Regions from separate parts of the Homo sapiens genome. Here all the other regions are linked to region 3. Evidence: fine-mapped expression QTL. A gene starts in region 3. Each other region holds a variant in brackets. All regions are shown on one strand. Distances are between the middles of the regions. Region 1 has its middle 20 kb from the start of SNORA53. Region 2 overlaps APAF1 (apoptotic peptidase activating factor 1). Region 3 holds the start of APAF1 (apoptotic peptidase activating factor 1).

Region 1 (8,028 bases), 25 kb after region 3:
AATGACACAAGGGAAAGGAAGAAAACTGCACTTCTACAAGTATAACATGAGAAAACTATTAAAGTATATATGCGTTTGTATGTATGTATAGATATCTAGATAGATATATCCTGTATTTATGAAGAGGTTTTCCTATTAAGAAATTATTAGAGAGATTTAGATGTACTTAATTTGTCTTTCTCTCTTTCTTCCATTCATTTATTTAACACAGATGCTTAAAATTTCAAAAACTTTCCTGTGTATCAAATATTAAATTACATTGTTAGTCTTTTCTTTAGGGAAAATTACCAATATCCTAAAACACATTTTTGTATCTTTGTAACTGATAATAAATTTTATGTCAATTAATTTCTTATAAAGTGGCCAGGCACAGTGCCTCATACTTGTAATCCCAATACTTTGGGAGGCTGAGGCAGAGTGGCTTAAGCCCAGGAGTTTGAGACAGCCTGGGTAACATAGTGAGACCTCGTCCCTACAAAAAAAAAAAAAAAAAAAAAAAAAGTGTAAGGAGGAGTAAGGCCAGGCACAATGGCTCACTCCTATAATTCCAACACTCTGGGAAGCTGAGGTGGGAGGATCGCTTGAGCTCAGGAGTTCAAGACCAGCCTGGATAACATGGTGAGACCTCATGTCTACTAAAAGTCAAAAAAAAGCGCATCCCTGTAGTCCTAGCGACGCAGGAGGCTGAGCCCAGGTGTTCAAGGTTGCAGTGACCTGCACCATTGCATTCCCAGCCTGGGTGACAGAGCAAGACCCTGTCTCAAAAGCATAACAGTACTGGATCAGCTGGGCGCAGTGGCTCACCCCTGTAATCCCAGCACTTTGGGAGGCCGAGGTGGGCGGATCACCTGAGGTCAGGAGTTCAAGACCAGCCTGGCCAATATGGTGAAACCCCGTCTCTACTAAAAATACAAAATTAGCCGGGCATGGTAGCAGGCGCCTGTAATCCCAGCTACTCGGGAGGCTGAGGCAGGAGAATCACTTGAACCGGGAGGCAGAGGTTGCAGTGAGCCAAAATCACGCCATTGCACTACAGCCTGGCAACAGAGTGAGACTCCATCTCAAAAAAAAAAGTAAAAGTACTGGATCAATTTTTTTAATGTTAACAGGAATAAATCACTTTTACAATACAAGCACCTAATTATTTTTAAACTTTTGAATATATAATTTTTAAATGTAATATTGCCTTAAATTTTGCTTAATGATCAGAAACTATTGACTAATTATACTTGTATATTTTATAACCAAAAATCTTGATTTATTAGCCTGTGTGGCTTCATAGAAAAACCCATAAGATGCAAAATTAGTAGTATTATTTTTCTTCTCAACCTAATTGTAGACCTTTGTATGAATCTATAACATTGTTCAAATTTTGATATGATGCCATTACACAGTAATGATGCTGAAAATTTACCAAACTCAATAAGAAAAAAAAAAAAACATCCTTTGTAGACTTACCCCATATTTGCACAGTTGACAAAAGCTCTACAAATTTTCCTAGCACCTGCTCATTTCAATTTATAAGCTATTAATTAATTTTGGGACAGGGTCTCACTCTGTCACCCAGGCTGGAGTGTAGTGGCGTGAGCACTGCTCACCACAGTGTCAACTTCCTGGGCCCAAGGGATCCTCCCATCTCAGCTCCTCCGATTGCTGGGACTACAGGTGCACACCGCCATGCCAAGCTAATTTTATTTTTTTGTAGAAACAGTCTCATTATGTTGCCCAGGCTGGTCTCAAACTCCTGGGCTGAAGCAGTTCTCCCATCTGGTCTTCCCAAAGTGCTGGGATTAGAGGTGTAAGCCACCATACCCAGCCTATAAACTATTAATTTAATACAAATCAAAATACTCCACCCCAGCTTTACACAGCAGGAGAGGAGAGAACTAACACTTCAGCACCTGTTAAAATGACATACCCACACGTATGTCAAGCATTTCTAGGAGATGTACATTCATCATAATCATTCCTTTTTTTTTTTTTTTTTAAGATGGAGTCTCACTCTGTCCCCAGGCTGGAGTGCAGTGGTGCGATCTCAGCTCACTGCAACCTCCACCTCCCGGGTTCAAGCGGTTCTCCTGCCTCAGCCTCCCGAGTAGCTGAGACTACAGGCATGCGCCACCATGCCCAGCTAATTTTTGTATTTTTAGTAGAGATGAGGTTTCTCCATGTTGGCCAGGATGGTCTCGATCTCTTGACCTCGTGATCCGTCTACCTCAGCCTCCCAAAGTGCTGGGATTACAGACATGAGCCACCGCGTCCAGCCTTCATTATCGTCATCATAACAGCTCTATATATTGATTACCTACCTTGTGCCAGTCATTATCACTAATCCTTACTACACCTTTACTAGCTATTAGACCCATTTTACAAATAAGGAAATGGAGACTTAGGAACATTGGGAATCTTGCAGTCACACTGTAGACCTAGGTCTGTTCAATTCCAGAGGCCAAGGACATCTCACTACACCATGGAGCCTGCTACTGTTCAACTAGGGGAGAAAAATCACAACAAATCTGCTGTTAGTAGAACTATCTCGATAACTCAAAAAGCAATAATTGAGTCAAATGTGTTCTCTACCATGTTGCCATTAAACCAGACTCAGTCCCTCAAAAGCTGTAGCTGTGCTCTAAAATTGTTTGGCCCTTGAGCATGAGAAGGAATCAATAAATGAATAAATGTTGGAGAAGAGGAAAAAGCAGTGCTGAAGAGTCCTAGGCTGTACTCCTCTAATCTATTAATAGGTTTTGCCACTGCATATTCTGGGCACTTTATTTTAGGGCTTAGGTTTTTTTTGTTTTGTTTTGTTTTTTGAGACAAAGTCTTGCTGTGTCGCCCAGGCTGGAGTGCAGTGGCACAATCTTGGTTCACTACAACCTCCGTCTCCTGGGTTTAAGCAATTCTCCTGCCTCAGCCTCCCAAGTACCTGGGATTACAGGTGCCTGTCACTACACCCGGCTCATTTTTTGTATTTTTAGTAGAGATGGGGTTTCACCAGGTTG[G/T]CTAGGCTGGTCTCGAACTCCTGACCTCAGGTGATCCACCCACCTCGGCCTCCCAAAGTGCTGGGATTACAGGTGTGAGCCACCACGCACGGCCACTAGGGCTTAGTTTTAAATAGTAAAAGGAGAGAATTATATCAATAATCCCTAAGATGCCTTCTGGCTTTAAGTGGTTTTATTTACTTATTTACCCTTTTTTTAATATAAAAAAAAGTAGAGGTGAGGGTCTCTCTATGTTGCCCAGGCTGGTCTCAAACTCCTGACCTCAACGGATCCTCCGTCCTTGGCCTCCCAAAGTGCTGGGATAACAGGTGTGAGCCACTGCGCCTGATCTAAATGGTTTTAAATTATACAGATCAATAAAATTTCCAGGTCCTTTAATAGAATTCAAAGAACCTAGCTGGGTGCAGTGGCCCACGCCTGTAATTTCAGCGCTTTGGGAGGCTGAGGTGGGTGGATCACGAGGTCAGGAGATCGAGACCATCCTGGCCAACATGGTGAAACCTGTGTCTCTACTAAAAATACAAAATTAGGTGAGCGTGGTGGTGAGCGTCTGTAATCCCAGCTACTTGGGAGGCTGAGGCAGGAGAATCTCTTGAAACCAGGAGGCAGGGGTTGCAGTGAGCTGAGATGGCGCCACTACACTCCAGCCTGGGCGACAGAGCAAGACTCCGTCTCAAAAAAAAAAAATCCTTTAGCAAGTTTTTAGAAAGCAGATTGGACCTAGAAATCATATTCTTGAACCATGTTGCTGTGCTTGTAGATCCAGGCAATGTTTAACATTACAGGACAGCATCTAACCTCATACCTTGAATATATGATAGGAATTTAATAAATATTCTGGCCGGGGGCAGTGGCTCATGCCTGTAATCCCAGCACTTTGGGAGTCTGAGGTGGGCGGATTACTTGAGGTCAGGAGTTCGCAACATGGTGAAACCCCGTCTCTACTAAAAAAAAAAAAAAAAAAAATAGAAAACTTAGCCAGGTGTGGTGGTGCATGCCTGTAATCCCAGCTACTTGGGAGGCTGAGGCCGGAGAATCACTTGAACTCAGGCGGCAGAGGTTGCAGTGAGCAGAGATTGCACCACTGCACTCCAGCCTGGGCAATAGAGTGAGACTCCATCTCATAAATAAATAAATAAATAAATAATCAAATCACTGATGTACTTTTTTTTTTTTTTTTTTTTTTCTGAGAAAGGGTCTGGTTCTGTCGCCCAGACTGGAGTGCAGTGGCATGATCTCAGCTCACTGCAACCTCTGCCTCCCAGGATCAAGCCATCCTCCCAGCTCAGCCCGGCTATTTTTGTAATTTTTGTAGAGATGGAGTTTCACCATGTTGCCCAGGCTGGTCTTGAACTCCTGAGCTCAAGTGACCCATCCACCCCGCCTCACAAAGTGCTGGGATTACGGGCGTGAGCCACCATCCCCAGCCTTCACTGATGTGCTGTTTTCAGCTACTGATAGACTCTAACTCTTCTATCCATCCTAGGCAAATAGGTTAACCAAACCCGAAGTAATTTTTAAAATAACTTAATACAACAATCTGTAGACTATTACCACACTGTATTGAGCTTATATTTTCATAAAGATCAATAGAAGTTCATGATACATTGCTATTATAAACAACCAAGTGAAACAAAGAGGTTTACTAACAGCTTCTTCCTAATAATCTGATCCTTCTAAGAATAAGCTAAGCTCATTCATCAACATCTTAATTGTTTAATTGCTATTAAGCTACTTTTACCAGAGTAGATACATTAATAAATGATAACCTGGTAATGAAATAGATTAAAGTAGCCGTCTAGTCCTTTCTCCCTTGGGAGATTGTTTCATCAAATACACTATGTTGCAAAACTTCCTCCTTAAAAATAAAATGTGATTTTGCAATCACTTCTTGGTTTCCTTCCTATTTGTGGCTACCGCTTAATGTCATACCCACAGGAACATTTCGCAAACTCACTTCTCTACCAAAAAACACATTTTGGGCCACCTTATCCACCAATAATTAATTTAAGCATAAAGCAATTGAGGAGAAAAATCCTCAAGTGTATTTTGAAATTAAACATTTATGATGGGGCGAAGTGGGGGGGTTGCTACTTAGAATTATTTTGTCCTACTGTCCCATTTCTGTACTTCATTATAATTATTTTGCAACTATATGGATGCTTCTTTTTAAAGCTGCCCTCAAAATAATATTCTGAGCATAATTCATTTTTATTTGTGTTAAGTAAAACTAAATGTATGATAACCAAAATAATCTCAAAAGGTTGGCATTAGCCAAGTAATCCAAATACAATTTAAGAAAGATAATTCAAGCTAGGTGTGGTGGCTCACGCCTGTAATCCCAGCACTTTGGGAGGATCACTTGAGCCAGGAGTTCAAGACCAGCCTGGGCAGCATAGTGAGACCCCCATCTCAAATTTTTTTTTTTTTTTTTGAGACAGAGTCTGGCTCTGTCGCCCAGGCTGGAGTGCAGTGGCACAATCTCGGCTCACTGCAAGCTCCGCCTCCCGGGTTCACGCCATTCTCCTACTTCAGCCTCCTGAGTAGCTGGGACTACAGGCGCCCACCACTACGCCCGGCTAATTTTTTGTATTTTTAGTAGAGACAGGGTTTCACTGCATTAGCCAGGATGGTCTCGATCTCTTGACCTTGTGATCCGCCCACCTCGGCCTCCCAAAGTGCTGGGATTACAGGCGTGAGCCACCGCGCCTGGCCTCAATTTTTTCTTTTAAGAAAGATAATTGATAAGAAAACATTGAAGAAATACACAATTATTTTAGAAAAAAAGATATCTTTAGATTAAACTGCATATTTAATTTTGTAAAAATGTTTTACAGTCTATTTGTTTTTATAAATTTTAATTTCAATTTTTTTGTTTTAGAGATGGGGGTCTTGCTATGTGCCCAGGCTGGAGCACAGTTGGTATTCATAGGCACAATCATAGCACACTACAGCGTCAAACTCCTGGACTCAAGCTTTTTTATTTCTTCTTTTCTGAATTTTAAGTAACACATTTATCGACATTCTGTGTCCCAAACTAAACTACAAACTCCCTAAAAGCAGAGACTGTTCTTGATCATACTAGGACATACTGTAGTACAGTATATGCTGTCAAATCAAACTAGTTTTGGTTATTAATAGAAAGTTATAATTTCCTACTTTACAACATAGTACTTTCCTAGAAAACAAGCTGAAAGTTAAATATGCAAAAGTCAAATGATTGACTTACACATTATAAATGGGATTCTTTTTCCAGAGTAATTACTGTATATCTGTCTTTGGGCATACGCATTAGCAATGTATTTCTAGCCATTTTACATTTGTTTCTTAATTTATTTTTCTTCATAATTGAGCACACAGTCCATAGGCTAATCTTCTGATTGAAGCTAAATAGTCTTACCTGATTTCCATCTTTGTTTTAATTGTACGACTTTATCCAACTTTGTGTGGTTTATGAGATCTACCCATCTTATCGCTATGTAATTTTCCCTTCTTCATTTTATTAACTGATGGCACAATGCAATAAAATGTCAAATATTTAAAGTTCGATAAAATACTCAACTCCCCAACACTGCTATATAGGCACGCACATGTGTGTGCACAGACACAGGACCATCACCACAAACAACAACAAAAATAACAACTCAAGATGTTGCCAGACACTTGGGTGGCTCCAAATGTTTATCAGTTAATGTGTCCAAGTTAAATCAAGGTGACAATTTAAGAGCTTTCAGTTCATAATGTATAGTGGGGAAGAAGGATGACATTGAAACATACAAAAGTTGAAAAACAGCTGCATTTGGAATCAGAATTTTAGAACCTTGGAAATTCTTTTCTTTTACTTATCTGTCTTCTCTACTAAACTAAGTTGAGGCCACAACTCGAGTTATACTCATCTTTATGTTCCACATATTTTGCATGCCTAACAACATACTAGGAACTTGAGAATTTGAATTATTCAAGGTCTCATGGATAGTTAGATAGGCCAGAAAACTGTTCATAAAAGTTACAGGCCAATAAAGCGTAGACATATAGTCTTGGACATTGGTCCCTTCATTCTAGCATTTGCTATAACTTATTTGCAGTTGCCTTAGACCCCGAATAGCCAAAGCAATCTTGAGCAAAAAGAACAAAGCTGGAGACATCACACTACCCGATCTCAAAATATATTACAAAGCTGTAGTAATCCAAACAGCGTGATACTAGCATTTAAAAAAAAAACATAGACTAATGGAACAGAGAGCCCAGAAATACTTCTACAAGTGTATGTTCAAATGATTCTCATCCAAGTTGCCAAGAACACACAAAAGGGAAAGGACATCTCTTTAATAAATGCTGTTGAGAAAACTGGATATCCTATGCAGAAGAATGAAACTGGACCCTTATATCAAACCATATACAAAAACCAATTCAAAATGAATTAAAGACTTAAATGTAACACCAGAAATTGAAAACCGCTGGAAGAAAACATGAGGAAAAAGCTTCTTGACGTTAGTCTTGGGAAAGATTTTTTTGAATAGAACCTGAAAAGAACAAGCAACAAAAGCAAAAATAGATAAATATGATTGTGTCAAACTAAAATCTTCTGTACAGAAAAGGAAACAGTCAACAGAGTGAAGAGACAACCTATAGAATGGGAGAAAATACTCATGAACCATAAATCTGAGAATGGCTTAATATCCAAAATATATAAGGAACTCAACTCAATAGCAAAAAAAAACCCAATTAAACAATGGGCTATGGACATGAATAGACATTTCTCAAAAGAAGACATAGTAATGGCCAACAGGTATATGGAAAAAAATGCTCAACATCACTAATTATCAGGGAAATGAAAAATTAAAACCACAATGAGATATCAACTCACACCTGTTAGAATATTTATTATCAAAAAGACAAAAGATAACAAGTGTTGGTGAGAATGTGGAGAAAAGGGAACCATCGTACACTGTGAGTGGGAAAGTATAGCCATTATGGAAAACAGTGTGGAGGTTCCTCAAAAAAAAAAAAACTAAGAATAATCATA
Region 2 (8,260 bases), 76 kb before region 3:
GATGGTGAGGAGCTAAGTGGTTGGCCTATAAACCGTTAGGTAATAGGTGTTTCAACAAGGGACACAGGCAGTGGTATGGAAGATAAAGTGGAAGAGGTGCAGACCAGAGGCAGGATGCTGGGACAGTTCACCAGTGGAGGAGGAGGAAAGCATGCTCTTCAGGGTGGTGACAAAGAGGAGAAGATAACTCTAAGATGCACTAAAGAGTCATCAACAGAGCACAAAAGACAGGATACAGCCCTGACAATTCCAAGGTTTATAGTTTGGAAAGACTGGTAGAAGGAGAAAAAAGGAGAGAAGAGAGTACTTGAGGTCCCCCACCAAGCAGCATCATTCACCAGAATGTGATTTTAGACACACGTCAATTATATTACATTAATTATATTAAAATTGTATTGTCAGTGTATAATTAAATGTAAATGCTTTTCAATGATTTTTATTGCCTACAATATGCAGTAGAGGTTGCATTTGATTAGTTATAGACAAAAAGTAATCCATAAGGGAGAAATCAGAAGTCCTCAATGTATTTCATTTCATTCATTTGATACCAACTAAATGCCAATGGGCATCCTCCAAAAGATCACAAAATATGAAACAGACATGTAGAGAGCAACTGTTATGTCCTTTTGCATATATTATTTGAACTCATTATACATAACCACTACCAAAGTTTTATGCATGGTTTCAATTGATTGACCTACCTTTGCAGTCTTGTCAGCAGAGGTAGATGAAAACTTGGTAGCATCGTGAGAAATGTCACAAGAAAGTACTGTACCCTGGTGACAGACAAAGTCTTTTTCTTTATTTCCAGTAATAATATTCCATACCTTAAAAAAAAAAAAAAAACACTTGGAGGTTGACACTTTTAAGAACATTTTATATTAAAAAGCATAATCAGCTACAAGACAGGTCTATAAAACAAGAGTTTTAATACACTGGCTGTTCTGACCCCTTTACTTTAAATGTGACTAACAGTATAAATGCTCATTAAACACAGCAGATGTAGGTGACTGCAATTAACAGAAAACAAGCATGAGAAAAATTAAAAATTTTTAAGTAAGTAATTAGCCTCACAGTGGCTTTTGACTGTCTCAATATAATCATTGCAATATGAGAATACTTTTTCAAAAAACAAATTTATACTTTAAATTACCTTCACTGTTCCATCAAATGACCAAGAAAGCAGTCTTGAATTTTTCAAGAGTCTAAAGTCTTTCACTGTTTCCTGATGGCCTCGTAGAAAGATACATTTGTCCAATTGCCAATTCCATACCTGAATATCAAAGAAATAAGTCTGTTATAATCCTCCCCCGATCCTATCTCATTGGAGGGGTGGAGAGAGTGTACATTCTCTTGTCTAAAGTCTTTTACTCACATGGCATTTCAGTAAAACAGAGAGGAATAAGAGAGAAGACTGTGGTGTCCACATTTTACAGACAGAAGCTGCGGTTATGTAAATTGACTAGGGGCAAAATAAAATACTTTTCCTCCTAAATAAAATTTGTTTTCTTCAGTTGCTTGGAGAACAGTTAATTATACCAGAAGATAGAAAAAAAAAAACACACAATATGCCAGTGAGCTCACCATCTGATTAAATTTTCCTGAGAAAATTATCCTAATTACATAGTCACAGATTTCTGAACCTACAAGCTGGGGAAGTCTACAGATCCTGGCCCCACTGAAGCTGGCCTGGGAAGGCCAGTTGATCAAAGCAGCTTCAAACCAAAACACAAGAGTTCCCAAGCTTCAAATATCTCAGCTATCCCCCATCGCAATCCTCAAAATGACGGAAGTGAGAAGGCATTGTTTTTCATGTGGAGCTTCAGGAGGAGCTCCTCAGACATAAGGAAAGGGGTGGGGGGAATGAAATAACATGAGTAACTAGCACAAAATATGCATACAAACGTATCTGAGACACAGAGGTACACAGAAGTTTATTTTTATGCTATGTCTATGTAAAGGACATTTCTTAATTACTAAAAGCAACTGTATTTAGAGCTTTATTAATACTTGACTTCAAATTAACTTATTTAATAAATGTCTATTTAGTACCTATATGCAAGGCAAATAGGAATCAAACAAGGATCTAGCATAAAGAAACTTAAGAGTTTAGCAAAGAAAATGAGAAATACAACAACAAACCCAAAAAGTCCTACAATAGAAGATACAATGATAGAGATAAAAGTTCTGTGAAACTCAAAAAAAGTAATTCCTTAGAGAAAATTTGGAGATAGCACATTCAAAGTAGGCTTGAGGAATGGGTTTAAAGTGTGATTCACAAACTGAGAAGGGTTCTTCAAAGGGAATAAATGTTGGAGTTAAAGTATAGGAGCAGGGAAACGTGAAAAGGGACCTGCTCATGAGTCCATCTGACTAGAGCATAGGAGACGCAGAAGAAACAGAAGAGAAAAAAGGTTGGGAAGGTATCCAAAGAAACAGCCCCGTGGGCCTGATGAAGCTAAAATTCTGAGGTATGGGAAAACAGGCCAGCTCCAAAAGAATAAAAAGATAAAGAAAAAGCAGCCACAACTACAGGTATGCACATGAGTAACATTCTGAGTCTAGCTTTTTATTGGCCAATGCTAAACAGCAGAAATATCTTTAATCAGACCTAGGCAAAATCTTAAAATAAATGACATCTCTTATTCCCCTTTTTTTTACTTCTTTTTCCACCACATTTAGCAGTCGTCCTCCCCAACAAGCCCTGGCTTTCAGATCTCTCATCTTCTGCCTCAGAATGCTCATTCACAGAAGCAGGATATCAGGAGCATGGGGTCTTGTATGCAAGCAAGAGAACTTTAGAAGACGAACTGGAAGTGAGAGTAATTCTAAAGAGAATGAATTAGTAATTTTCATATTTTAAGAACCCAATGAGATATGCTGGGGGAAGGGGAAGAAATGGAGGCATTTCTGGCTTCCCAAATCATACCAGAGAGGAAGGGCACCCCATATGACTAAGCATAAAAGACCTTATTCCATTTCTACTAGGAAACTCCTGGCTCTCTCCTCCCGCTTTCTGGGCTTCACTGGACTGGAGGATCAATGGCTATGCTGAACAGCTCCTCCTAGTTTACAGACACTGCCTATTCTAGCTTTGCCTGATTCAATGTTCATTTCTAACTTAGTATCTTACTTCTGCCCTCTGCATCAAGAACTCAGACAGCCTTCTGGAGCAGATATAACAAAGAATTTGACAACCACTGAGGGCAGATTAAGAATAGCCTTTGCAGCTTTTGTTACAGAAGGTTTCTGACTAGGCAATGATGATGAGTGATTTGTTGTTGTTGTTGTTGTTGCACGGAAACACACTGTGCTAATTGAATAACCTTAATATCACTAAACTTCCACCACCATTAGTCAAATGCAAAAGTTGAGTTTGGGGATGTCTCTATCATTGACTATTTTTGCAATGTATATATACTTGTAGAATTTTTTTCAGCTATATGAATAAAATTTAAATTGTAGAAATGTTAAGGAAATTTTTTTTT[TC/C]TTTTTTTTTGAGACAGAGTCTTGCTCTGTCGCCCAGGCTGGAGTGTAGTGGCGGGATCTCAGCTCACTGCAAGCTTCGCCTCCCAGATTCATGCCATTCTCCTGCCTCAGCCTCCTGAGTAGCTGGGACTACAGGTGCCTGTCACCACGCCTGGCTAATTTTTTTGTATTTTTTAGTAGAGATGGGGTTTCACCGTGTTAGCCAGGATGGTCTCGATCTCCTGACCTCGTGATCCGCCCGCCTCGGCCTCCCAAAGTGCCGGGATTACAGGCGTGAGCCACCGCACCCGGCTGGAAACTTTTCATACCAGCAAGAACTAACATAGTCCTATATACTGGCTCATGTAAGCATGGGTAATACTTGGCCTTTATTTACTTCAAGGTAAAGGATCAAAAACTACCAAAGTAGACCTCAATGTTCACAATCCTAAGGGCTATAATCAGGTGAGCTGATTCTTCAAAGTTTGGCAATAACTTCAGCTCAGCAAAGATTTACAGAACCCTTACTGGATTCCAGGCTTTGGGGATACAAAGATAATTAAAACAAACCTCCACTTAATCATTTACAAAAACCTTAAAAAATGAAAACAAAACCCAACCAGTCATTTCTCGAAAATATCTATAGAGTTTTGTTACATTTAAAACACTGTAAATGTAAAAAGTATTCTGAGTAGAACAGAAAAAGAGGAAGAAACACAACTACTTAACTCATATTTCTAAATATAATCTAACTCCTTTTCTAAAAATATCTCTAGAAATTATTCTTCCCCCTAGCTGAGAATACCTGAAATCGTCAAGCTGGTCATAAAAACCTTATGAATTTAACTTTTGATAGAATACATAGTATACAATGTCTCAAAAGAACTTCATCAGATGTAGTTTTTAGTTTTACCCATTCCAAAGACATCTGGAGAGGAAGAAAGGTGACTATTACACTGAGTTTTACAGCTAGAACACCAGTGTCATGGGAGCCTATAACAAGTAAGTTTCTGTACTAAAGCCAAATTTCATTGCAATCATACTGCTTCCTAGGACTCACACAGACATAACATTAAAAGATCTTTTTCCCAAAAGGGTTTTTAACAATACAATTAAATATTGCCACCACAATTAATATATATACTAAATAAAAGAATATAATAATTTCCACTGAACATATGCATTCTATCCTTCACTTCTAAAGCCCTACTAAAATGGCAAGATCAAAAGAATGAGAAAGGAGATAACAGCAACAAAATGTGGGAGGCTGGAAAGCAAGAGAATGGTAACTGACTCAGCAAAGTCAAGAAAACAGAATCCTAAAGGCATTATAAAAAGTCAAAAGTGGCCAGGCGTGGTGGCTTACGCTTGTAATCCCAGCACTTTGGGAGGCTGAGGCGGGAGGATCACAAGGTCAAGAGATCGAGACCATCCTGGCCAACATGGTGAAACCCCAACTCTACTAAAAAAAAAAAAAAAAATTAGCCGGAAATGGTGGCACGGGCCTGTAGTCCCAGCTACTCAGGAGGCTGAGGCAGGGGAATTGCTTGAACCCAGGAGGCGGAGGCTGCAGTGAGCCAAGATCATGCCACTGCACTCCAGCCTGGCAACAGAGCAAGACTGTCTCAAAAAAAAGAAAAGAAAAGAAAAAGTCTAAAGCAACAAAATCGGCATTATGAACTCCCAAAATGCTCAAAAATGGAAGGCACTAAGTATACCCAAAGGAGGAAATGAGGGTGGGGCTAAGAATATAAGTATTAAGAATTAGGAGGCAGAGAATCCTAAGATAGCCACACAGTGTTCACCGAAAAGTGCAATGGAACAACTAGAGAAGAGCAGGAGACACTGAGTGTGAGGTACAGTCTGGAAGGACTGGAGCAGTGTGAGCCTTGTGAGCTCTCAAAATTAACCAGAACAACCCTACAGTGAGGAGAAACCACAGGGAATAGAATCCAATGGAGTAGAACGAGGATAAGGGCATCAAAGGAAAGAGAAGGTCGAAATAACTGAGAGGGAAGGAGATGGGGCAAAGAGATCTCCTAAGAACAAGGCCATTATATATTTGAGATGGGGACTTGCTCTGTTGCCCAGGCTGGAGTGCGGTAGCATGATCATAGCTCACTCCAGCCTGGACCTCCTAGGCTCAAGCGATCCTCCAACCTCAGCCTCCTGAGTAGCTGGGATTATAGGCATGCACTACCACACCTGGCTAAATTATTTTGTTTTGCAGAGATGGGGTCTCGCTATGTTGCCCAGGCTGGTCTCTAACTCCTGCCTCAAGCAATCCTCCCACCTCAGACTCCCAAAGTGCTGGGATTAAAGGTGTGAGCCGCTGCGCCCAGTAAGGCCATATTTTTAATGCCTCGTGAAAATAAGAGAACGAGCTGCAGAGCTGTGAAGCTAGAAATGCTGGACTTCCCCACTCCTCCAAGGAGTTTAGGAAACTTGATTTTACATAAAAAAGAAGGCCGGGCACGGTGGCTCACACCTGTAATCCCAGCACTTTGGGAGGCCAAGGTGAGATCACTTGAGATCAGGAGTTCAAGACCAGCCTGGCCAACATCGTGAAACCTTGTCTCTACTAAAAATACAAAAAAATTAGCTGCATGTGATGGCAGGTGCCTGTAATCCCAGCTACTCAGGAGGCTGAAGCAGAAGAATCACTTGAACCTCGGAGGTGGAGGTTTCAGTGAGCCGAGATTGCACCACTGCACTCCGGCCTAGGCAATAGAGCAAGACTGTCTCAAAAAGAAAAAAAAGAAAGAAAAAGAAAAGAAAAGAATTGCTGTTGAATCCCAAAGTTACTATGGGAAAAAAAGGAAGAAAGTAGACAGACAGTGACAGCAAACTAGAAAGAAGAATCTCTGAATTTAAGGGCACCAGCACAACTGAGGGTAGAATTACAATTCTGAGAATGAGGGATCAAGGGAAGGTGTACATACTAAATGTTGAGATCCAACATCTATTAATACTTCCTGTTATCTTCCCCAACTTAGCTCTGAGAACCTGCCAGCCAGGTTTATCCTCCAGGCAAAAGACCAGAAAATTCCTCTCTAGGAATCTGAGGAGACCAAGACAAAAGACCTGAAGATACTCACAACAAAGTTTCCCCTTTCAGATTCACCTTTTAGAGAAGATCTCAGTCAACACACAGAGCTTTCAGCCAGTTGTTCAGTACAGATCTCTGATAGCCAATGACCACTGAGAGCTAAGGAGGCCTTCAAAATAGGAGGTCAAAACAACCAAACAGAAAAAAGCAACTTGGAGGGAACAGCAACTATGCAGCAAAACAAAAATTTATGGGGAAAAAATTATATATATAAGCCAGGCACAGTGGCTCATGCCTGTAATCCCAGCACATTGGGAGGCCAAGGTGGGTGGATCACCTGAGGTCCAGAGTTCAAGACCAGCCTGACCAACATGAAGAAACCCCATCTCTACTAAATATACAAAAATTAGCAGGGTGTGGTTGTGCATGCCTGCAATCCCAGATACTCAGGAGGCTGAGGCAGGAGAATCGCTTGAACCCAGGAGGCGGAGGTTGCAGCAAGCCAAGGTCGCACCATTGCACTCCAGCCTAGGCAACAAGAGTGAAACTCCGTCTCAAAAAAAAACAAAAAAAAATTATATGTGTGTGTGTGTGTATATAATTTCTATATATATATTATATATATTTACCTGTCTGTGTGTATATCTCCTCAGAGAGATAAAATATTCTATCTACAAAATAAGAATTTAACACATTAGAAATATACTAGTAGAAATGAAAAACTCAATAAAATGGCTGGAAGGCAAAACTGAGGAAAACTCCCCAAAAATAGAGCACAGTAGGCCAGGTGCGGGGGCTCATGCCTGTAATCCCAGCACTTTGGGAGGCCGAGGCGGGCGGATCACAAGGTCAGGAGTTCAAGACCAGCCTGGCCAGCATGGTGGAATCTCATCTCTACTAAAAAAAATACAAAAAATTAGCTTGGCATGGTGGCATACGGCTGTAATCCCAGCTACTCAGGAGGCTGAGCCAGGAGAATTGCCTGAACCCAGGAGGCAGAGGTTACAGTGAGCCAAGATCGCGCCACTGCACTCCAGCCTGGGTGACAGAGTGAGACTCCATCTCAAAAAAAAATAAAGAAAAAAACATAAAGCACACTATAGAAAGATGAAATGTGGAAAAAGAAAACTAGATTATCAGTCCGGGAGATCTAACATCTGAATAATGGGTGTTACAAAAAGAGAAAGCAAACTGGAACAAAAAGGAAAGAATCAAAGAAATAATTCAACTTCCATGAATTAAAAATCATAGGTTTCCAAATTGAAAAGGAAGACTGAATATCCAAAACAATGAATAAAAACTAACAACACAGTGTATCATCAGGAAATTTCAAGATTCTGGGGATAAAATGAAGATCCTAAAATCTTCCAGAGAGAAAGATTAGGCAGCAAAATGGCTTCAGACTTTTCAACGTGAACTTTGGAACTTGGAAGAAAATGGAGCAATGTCTTCAAAGTTTTAGTGTAAAATAATTTCCAACTACACCCAAAGGTCAAATTTTCCTAAATTGCGTTAAGGCAAAAAATGCATTCACAGTACCCTTAGTACACAGTGATCATAGTAACAGGAAGGATCTAAACAAAATTTCGTTATAATTGGGATAAATGGATTGATAAATGAGTGTCTGTGAACGTGTGCATGCACATAAGCTGAAGGCAGGACAGGTGGAAGGCGGAAAAAAGCAACATCTTCCTGTAGGGAATTCGGTAGATAACTTCTCAAATGGGAAAATCAAGAAGAGCA
Region 3 (8,260 bases):
AAACCATACGAAGTTATTCCACTAACTGAATCTTTACCACTGGAAGAAGAGACAACAGGAATGCCATCATGGAGAAGGGCAGCAAGATCTTTATATCCTTCATGTAGTAGAGCATTGTAGAATGATACGTAGGAATCATTATCTTTTTTAAGTATCATTTTAATCAGCATAGCTGCTCTTTGCTGTTGAGTGGGCTAAAAAAAATTAAGTAGTTTAGTATACAACAATGAATATGTATGCAACATAAAGTAGTGGAGACCAGTACAAGTTCTGAAATTCTAAAAATTTTTAAGGAAGTGTGGACTGCTTCAGAGAGCTTTACCTCATTTCTTACTTTTTCCTCTTCTGATATTGTTAAAAATCCATCACTAATCATGTGATCCATGATGTAGGATGTCTTGATGTCCTTTTCCAGAGCTTCTCTATGTTGAAGCAAACAATTTCGAGCTTTTGCATCCATCTTCCCTCAGATCTTTCTCTCTCTGAGCTGTCAACCATGAGCTACAGCCAAAACACCAAAATATTTGTCAGGCCAATAAAAATATGAAAAGATACATAATCTCACTAATAAACAAGAAACGTAAAAAGAACAAAACTGATTTTTTTTCCTTGGCAAAAATTTTTAAATGGACAAAACCCAGTGCTTGGAAAGGTATGAGAAAATGGCCATTCTTATGCACTAATTGGGGAAACTAGAAAATGAATGCAATTTTTCTGGAAAGCAGTAAGATATGGAATTGTTTAAAATAAGCTTTCTCTCTAACCCAGAAATCCCATTTCTAAGGATTTACTTCAAGGAGACATTCAAATACATATGTAAAAATATCCACAAGGAGAATTAATGAGTTTCCAATCAGGTGTGGTAGCTCAAGCCTATAATCCCAGCACATTGGGAGGCTAGAGTAAAAAATAAAAAGAAAAAAGAATTAATGGAGGATGTTTCAGTGATGAACGCAACCTAAATGTCCATCATTCTGAATATAGATTTTAAAAATTAGGGTATGTATATAAAATGGAATATTATGCAGCCATTCAAAATTATGACACATATCTCCATGTATTGACATGGAAAGATGTTCATAATACTGTTGCTGAAAAAAAAAAAAAAAAAAAACAGAAACATGATCCCACATACAACACATAACGTGGGGGCCGGGCGCAGTGGCTCATGCCTGTAATCCCAGCACTTTGGGAGGCCGAGGCGGGTGGATCACGAGGTCAGGAATTCAAGACCAGCCTGGCCAAGATGGTGAAACCCTGTCTCTACTAAAAATACAAAATTAGCCAGATGCAGTGGCAGGTGCCTGTAATCCCAGCTGCTCGGGAGGCTGAAGCAAGAGAACTGCTTGAACCAGGGCGGCAGAGGTTGCAGTGAGCCGAGACCACTCTACTGTACTCCAGCCTGGGCGACAGACTGAGACTCTGTCTCAAAAAAAAAAACAAGTGTTGGTATCATATGAATATATATAGACGTTTAGAAGTTTATTCATCGAAATGTTTGAGTTACTTCTGAGTAGCAAAATTTGGGATTTCTCCCCCACCTTGTCTTATTTTTTTTTTTTTTTTAGTACAGACGGGGTTTCACCATGTTGACCAGGCTGGTCTTGAATTCCTGACCTCAGGTGATCCACCCGCCACAGCCTCCGAAAGTGCTGGGATTACACTTGTGAGCCCCACCATGCCCGGCCTCTACTGTCAATTTTTTTTAGCACACATTATCATTTCTTACAATAAAATACTTCCTTTTTTAATTAAGATTGTATAAAATAGTGATTACATTGAAGTCCTAATATTAAGAGACTTCTTGTTTTCCTTATCAAACATAAGAGTGAATAGAGCATTGTTACTATTGAGTATTAGTTCTCGTTCAAGGAGGATGTCAGCTCTAGGTCCTCCTTGCTAAACACATTTCCCACAAAGCAACAGGAAACACTTTCTGATGTGATTTCTCAGACCAGGAGGACATGAGGAAAGAATAACAGCCTTTATAGTAAAATACTTGACGTTTCTAGCAACTTTATTTCAAATATAATGCAAATTTTTCCATGGGCATAAAACCCAGTTCACAATATCTGCAAGTTTTCAAAACATTAACAGAACTTTACACAATGTATAGAGTGAAAGAGTCTAAACGGGTTTATCAATTCATTCATTCAATACACATTTGTGCCCCTCCCTATATGTCAGACACCAAGACTACAGAAAAGATTGAGTCATTTGCCTGAAATAATTCACAGTCTACTCAAAGAAGAAAAAGAGAGAGAGAGTGGGAATGTGAATGCCCGAAGTGCAAAAACAGAGCACAAGTAACTTGGAGCTCACAGAAGGGGGCAATAATTATCAAGCTTCAATGACTGTTTTTGAAGTCACCAAATGTAGCACTTGGAAAAACAGGGACGGACGTAGGGCATTTGCCTATGCTTGTCAAGGCTTACAAAATGCCCAGCAGGGGCACAAAACTGATAAAAAGTTATTGATTCGAATCAAAACTCTCATTTTTTAAAATGTTAATAACGTTTTTGTCCTCTTAAACATAAAATGTTCCTTAATTTATAGTAATGAAATTCGATGTGAAAAAACAAGAATGAATGAATTTTTTAGGTGATGTCCAATAGCTAAGCAAATAAGACACTCTGGTTTTCTGAAACTAATTTCCAATTTCACCTAGTCCTGTTAAACTAAAATATGCAAATCTTAAATACGTTTTAAAACTGCACAACTTATCTGAACTAAGTCTCAAAACCTTTTGTAACCCACAACAAAATGGAAAGCCAAAACTCTTCATGGACGTAAAACAGAAAACAGCGCACGTTTATCCACGAAAACCCCAAGTTTACTACTTCCTCATTACAGAATTTCTCTTCCTGGTACAGGAGCAGGATGGTTATCAAATATTCCATGTCCTCAAATTCTCAGTCCCTGAAATCAGCTACCAAGCCTCCAAAGAACCTGGCTCGGGGAGAAAAGCGAGGAGGTCAACTTACCCAAGCCTTTGCGCCTAGGTCTTAGTGGGGAGGGCGGCACTGCCGGGACAAGACTGGGAGACTCCAGGCCGGTGGAGGGAAACGGCAACAGGAGTTTTCCACCGGGAATTAGGGGTGCAGGGCTCTGTCTCGCCACATACCCTTCGCCCCGGGGCAGGTCCGGGCCTCACAGGCGCCTCCCCTGGATCTCTGCAGCCCCGGGGCGCACGAAGACCCCCAGGGACCTCCGAAGGTTGGCGAGGTGGGCGTCCACCCAACGCAGCCTGACCCCACAGTCCCGGAGCGCCGCGGTGAGGCCCGGCCCACGGGCCGCCCTCCGGTGGACCCCACTACTGGACACAAAGGGAGGAGGTCTTCCCGGCCTGTGGCGCCCTTCCCCCGACGGCGGCTGCACCCCGGAGGGAGCCCGGCGCTACTCCGGATGCCGCTGCGGCACCTCAAGTCTTCGCGGGTCGCCGACTGCCCAGACTCCCCACCTCTGGTTCTATCCCTTTTGCCCGGGATAGAGCAGTCACGTCCACTCGCTACCTCTTCTTCTCCGCCTCTGGACAGCGGAGCAGTCAAATCCCGCCGGATCCACCCAGCCCGGACGGCGCGCGCCCGCTTATGCAAATAAACACACCCCAAGCCCCAAGGGGCGGCCACCGCTGCCGCCGCGCACTCCTGCCACGGCTCATGCCCGCGCGCGTAGAAGTGCCCGCCTACCCCGCGGACGGGGCGTGGCTAAGCCTCAGGGACGCGCCGCGTTCCCACCAATGCCGGACTCGGGCAGCGGCGGCGCGCCCGACGTGGCGCGCGCGACCCCTTCGTCCTGCCCCTCCTCCTCGGGTCCCGTCGGCCTGCGCGCGCCCGGGAGTTTGAATTTCCTCGGATTTGGAGCAATATCGCAGTGGAAGGCGCTGTGGGTTGAGGTCGCCGCCCACCTCTCCTAGGGGAACTATGGAGCTGGCAGCTGAAAGACTCAGTGAAGCAACGAGGATGCCGGGGAGAGGGAAGGGGCTGGGCTCTGGGCGGTGCCAAGTCTGTGAGGGGGCGCGGTCACCGCCCAGGGTTCCCACGAACGCCAAGGCGGCCACGTCCTGCTCCCCCTGGTGAAGAAGCTGCCCTGGGCTTGTCGTCCTAGGGTCTCCAGACATGTCTGAGGTGAAGAGCCGGAAGAAGTCGGGGCCCAAGGGAGCCCCTGCTGCGGAGCCCGGGAAGCGGAGCGAGGGCGGGAAGACCCCCGTGGCCCGGAGCAGCGGAGGCGGGGGCTGGGCAGACCCCCGAACGTGCCTGAGCCTGCTGTCGCTGGGGACGTGCCTGGGCCTGGCCTGGTAAGTGGACGCGAGGCTGCCTGGGCCGGCCTCCTGTGGGCCCCCTGCTGTTTGGGCTCCCACCCGGCTCAACATCCAGCCGGAGGTGATCCAACCTCCCAGACCTGGGCCTTCTGTGCCTCTGTCTTGACCCCAAAGGAAGGAAACAGCCCAGCCTTGTTTTTCCCTTTCGGGCGTTTCTTGTATCTCATTTCCCCCCGTGCTGGTAGCATGCCCCTATCGCTCAGAAGGAGTTGAGGCTAAGGTTTGGGAACGAGCCATTTGTTAAGAGCTGCAGATTCGGCCACGCTTTCTGAAGCTCCCGCTACACGTCAGAAGCGTTCACGTTGTTATAAACCGTTACTTCCTGTCCGCTGTGCCCCATTCCGGGACACATCTGCCCCACCCTACTCACCCCATAAATACCTAATGGAAATACTTGCAACCTTAAAACAGATCATTATGTTTGGAGACCGAGGCAGGTGGATCACTTGAGGTCAGGAGTTCGAGACTAGCCTGGCCAACATGGTGAAACCCCATCTCTACCAAAAATACGAATAATCAGCCGGGCGTGGTGGCGGGCGCCTGTAGTCCCAGTTCCTCCGGAGGCTGAGGCAGGAGAATCGCTTGAACCCGGGAGGCGGAGGTTGCTATGAGCCAAGATCGCATCACTGCACTCCAGCCTGGGCGACCGAGCGAGACTCCGTCTCAAAAAAAAAAAAAAAAGAAAACCATATCATTATGCTCCCAAAGGAGCAAACGTTATAGTAGCAGAGCTTGGAGGAGTGCTCATATTTTGATCACCGTGCATGCATTATGAATTTAAGGTCTTTTATTAAGTAAGTTACAGATTGAATATGGTAAAGCTACAAAAACATAGCACTTGTGTTCACTTAAAACTAACCAGTTGCAGTTTTAAAATCAGGTAAATGGCGATATATTGGTGTCATTAGGAAAAATGAATATTAGAAATAACCTTAAAACCAACTCGTAAAAAAAGAAAAAAGAAAAAAACCAACTTGTGAATTTTATTTTCCCAGCCTTTTTTTTTCTGGCGGGAGGAGGGAATAGCCCATTTCATTTTAATAAGATTGGCATCTTAATAGAATTTTTCTCCATTTTTCATTCATGTGTAAAGTTATTTAGTAAGACTGTTGTTAATCTTCCAGAGTGATAGAATTTTAGAAGAGACCCTGGACATCTAGACATTTTTTATGCTACTACATATGGAATTATACTTTACTGGTGACTCATCCCAAATAGTGTATTTTTCAGAGTTAAAAGATTTGTTACGGCTGGGCGCGGTGGCTCACACCTGTAATCCCAGCACTTTGGGAGGCCGAGGTGGGCAGATCATGAGGTCAGGAGTTCAAGACCAGGCTGGCCAACATGGTGAAACCCTGTCTCTACAAAAAATACAAAAATTAGCCAGGCTTGGTGGCACAAACCTGCAATCCCAGCTATTCAGGAGGCTGAGGCAGGAGAATCACTCGAAATGGGGAGGTGGAGGTTGCAGTGAGCTGGGATCGTGCCATTGCACTCCAGCCTGGGCAACAGAGCGAGACTCCATCTCAAAAAACAAACAAACAAAATTTTGTCACAATAAAGTGATTAAACGCCCTCTTCAAAAACAATAGAATTGTCAGCCTGCCGGCAGTGGCTCATGCCTGTACTCCCAGCACTTTGGGAGGCCAAGGTGGGTGGATCACCTGAGGTCAGGAGTTTGAGACCAGCCTGGCCAACATAGCAAAACCCTGTGTCTACTAAAAATACAAAAAAGCCAGGCATGGTGGCATGCTCCTGTAATCCCAGCTACTCAGGAGGCTGAGGCAGGAAAATCACTTGAACCCAAGAGGCGGAGGTTGCAGTGAGCCGAAATCGTGCCACTGCACTCCAGCCTGCAGGATGGAGCAAAACTCCTTCTCAAAAAAAAAAAAAAAAAAAGCAGATAGCATTATTTATTTTACTAATACGGAATATGTTAATTTTGATCTGAAAGGAATAAATGTACTGAATTTACTGTTTTAAATAAACGGCTCTTATGCCTTAAAATGCTTGACCTCCTTTAAGTAAATTGAAAAAAAAACCTTTTTGGGCCAGGTGCAGTGGCTTGCGCCTGTAATCCTAGCACTTTGGGAGGCCGAGGCAGGCGAATCACTTGAGGTCAGGAATTTGAGACCAGCCTGTCCAACATGGTGAAACCCTATCTCTACCAAAAACACAAAAATTAGCTGGGCCTGGTGTAATCCCAGCTACTCAGAGGTTGAGGCAGGAGAATCACTTGAACCTGGGAGGTGGAGGTTGCAGTGAGCCAAGATCTGCTACTGCACTCCAGCCTGGATAACAGAGCGAGACTTCGCCTAAATAAATAAGTAACCTTTTGTGTTTTGGGAAAGTTAGTTACTATCCTGGGATAAGCTTTAATAGAAAACTAAACTTTATGGGAATAAAATTTCCCTCACATCAGGAATTTGCTGTTAGTGATTCCTGTATTACATTGTAATGAATGTATTACATTCATTAGGAAGATTTAATTTGAACTATGTTTGCAAAATGATAACACAATGCTATATCAAAAATAATTTTGGGGGCCAGACCCAGTGGTTCATGCCTATAATCCCAACACTTTGGGAAACTGAGGCGAGAGAATTGCTTGAGGTCAGGAGTTTGAAACCAGCCTGGGAAACATAGTGAGACCGTGTCTACGAAAAATTTTTAAATATTAGCCAAGTGTGGTGGCATTCGCTGTAGTCCCAGGTACTTGGGAGGCTGAGGTGAGAAGATAGCTTGAGTCTGGGAAGTCAAAGCTGCAGTAACCCATGATTATACCACTGTGCTCCAGCCTGAGAGACAGAGCAAGACCCTGTCTCTCTAAAATGTATGTATTATATGTGTTTTTTATGGGCAGATTCTATAATTATTATTTAAATAGTTGCCTCTTAGTTGCTCTTGTGAAATCTTTTGCTGCAAAAATTGAAGCAAATGTACTTTGGTTGCTGTTTATTGCAAAATATTTATTCATAGTAAATTTTGAAATAAAAATATATCCCCATAAGACATTTGTAAACATTTTCCAGATAAAAAGCAAGTATTTGGCATCTTAAAATACTTAAAAGCTCACTAGAATTTTGACAAAGCCATTGAGATCTTTACCACTAAAACACGTAATTCAGCATCTAAAAGTCGGTCTATCAAATCTTTATTAAATGCTTTCCGTACTGACACGGCCCTGGTGGTTAAAATACAAGTGCATATGTGTGCCTGTCTGTGTACTCTTAAATACTGCTTACTCTCACTCTTCATCTGATTAAGTTGGAGGGAAAAAATCTGAACCCTTCCACTGCCCAAGAAGGATTTCAAGGAATCACACTATATCATTGTCTTCAGACCATTTCCTATGTGGAAAGAAAAGAGAAATAATACATAAGAAACTTAAAAGTGTGTTGCTTTAATATCTTCTCTCTGCTAAATAAAGGCCTGATAGGCCAGGTGTGGTGGCTCCCACCTGTAATCCCAGCACTTTGGGAGGCCGAGTTGGGCGGATCTTGAGCTCAGGAGTTCAAGACCAGCCTGGGCAACATGGTAAAACCCTGTCTCTACAAAAAATACAAAAAATTAGCCAGGCATGGTGGCGCATGCCTGTAGTCCCAGCTACTTGGGGGGTTGAGGTTGGAGGATTGCTTGAGCCCCGGAATTTGAGGTTTCAGTGAGCTTTGATTGCACCACAGCACTCAGCCTGGGTGACAAAGTGAGACCCTGCAAAAAAAAAAAGGCCTGATATATCCTATGTCATCTTGACAATAAACACTGGAGATAAGTTGCCCAAACCCATATGGCTTGAGTGTCAGTTTGCATAGCTCTTTTCTAAACTCTTATAGAAATTTTTCAGGTAAGAATTGAGGTGATTCTACTTTCAGAAAGTTAAAAAGTTGTTAAATTACTAAACAAGACACAAAACCTGTCACTCATGCTTATTTAATTACA

What was found.
Region 1: its variant is fine-mapped to the expression of APAF1 in whole blood (TOPMed, PIP above 0.99).
Region 2: its variant is fine-mapped to the expression of APAF1 in whole blood (TOPMed, PIP above 0.99).

The regions. Positions count from the first base shown.
Region 1 is chr12:98,616,034-98,624,061 of GRCh38, reverse strand. It overlaps a transcript of IKBIP not described here. Among named protein-coding and RNA genes, the nearest start is that of SNORA53, 20 kb to the right of the region's middle. The variant G/T (reference allele first, on the strand shown) is at 3,003.
Region 2 is chr12:98,716,206-98,724,465 of GRCh38, reverse strand. APAF1 (apoptotic peptidase activating factor 1) reads right to left here. Exons shown (of 27, transcript NM_181861.2): 23 at 1,154-1,273; 24 at 702-827. Among named protein-coding and RNA genes, the nearest start is that of APAF1, 75 kb to the right of the region's middle. RefSeq lists a silencer at 6,549-6,749. The variant TC/C (reference allele first, on the strand shown) is at 3,489.
Region 3 is chr12:98,640,560-98,648,819 of GRCh38, reverse strand. APAF1 (apoptotic peptidase activating factor 1) reads right to left here and starts at 3,530. Exons shown (of 27, transcript NM_181861.2): 1 at 2,985-3,530; 2 at 323-501; 3 at 5-194. The coding sequence starts at 460. It overlaps IKBIP (IKBKB interacting protein), which reads left to right and starts at 4,032. Exons shown (of 3, transcript NM_153687.4): 1 at 4,032-4,297. The coding sequence starts at 4,119. RefSeq lists silencers at 3,126-3,335, 3,656-3,855 and enhancers at 3,432-4,059, 4,060-4,686, 4,687-5,314.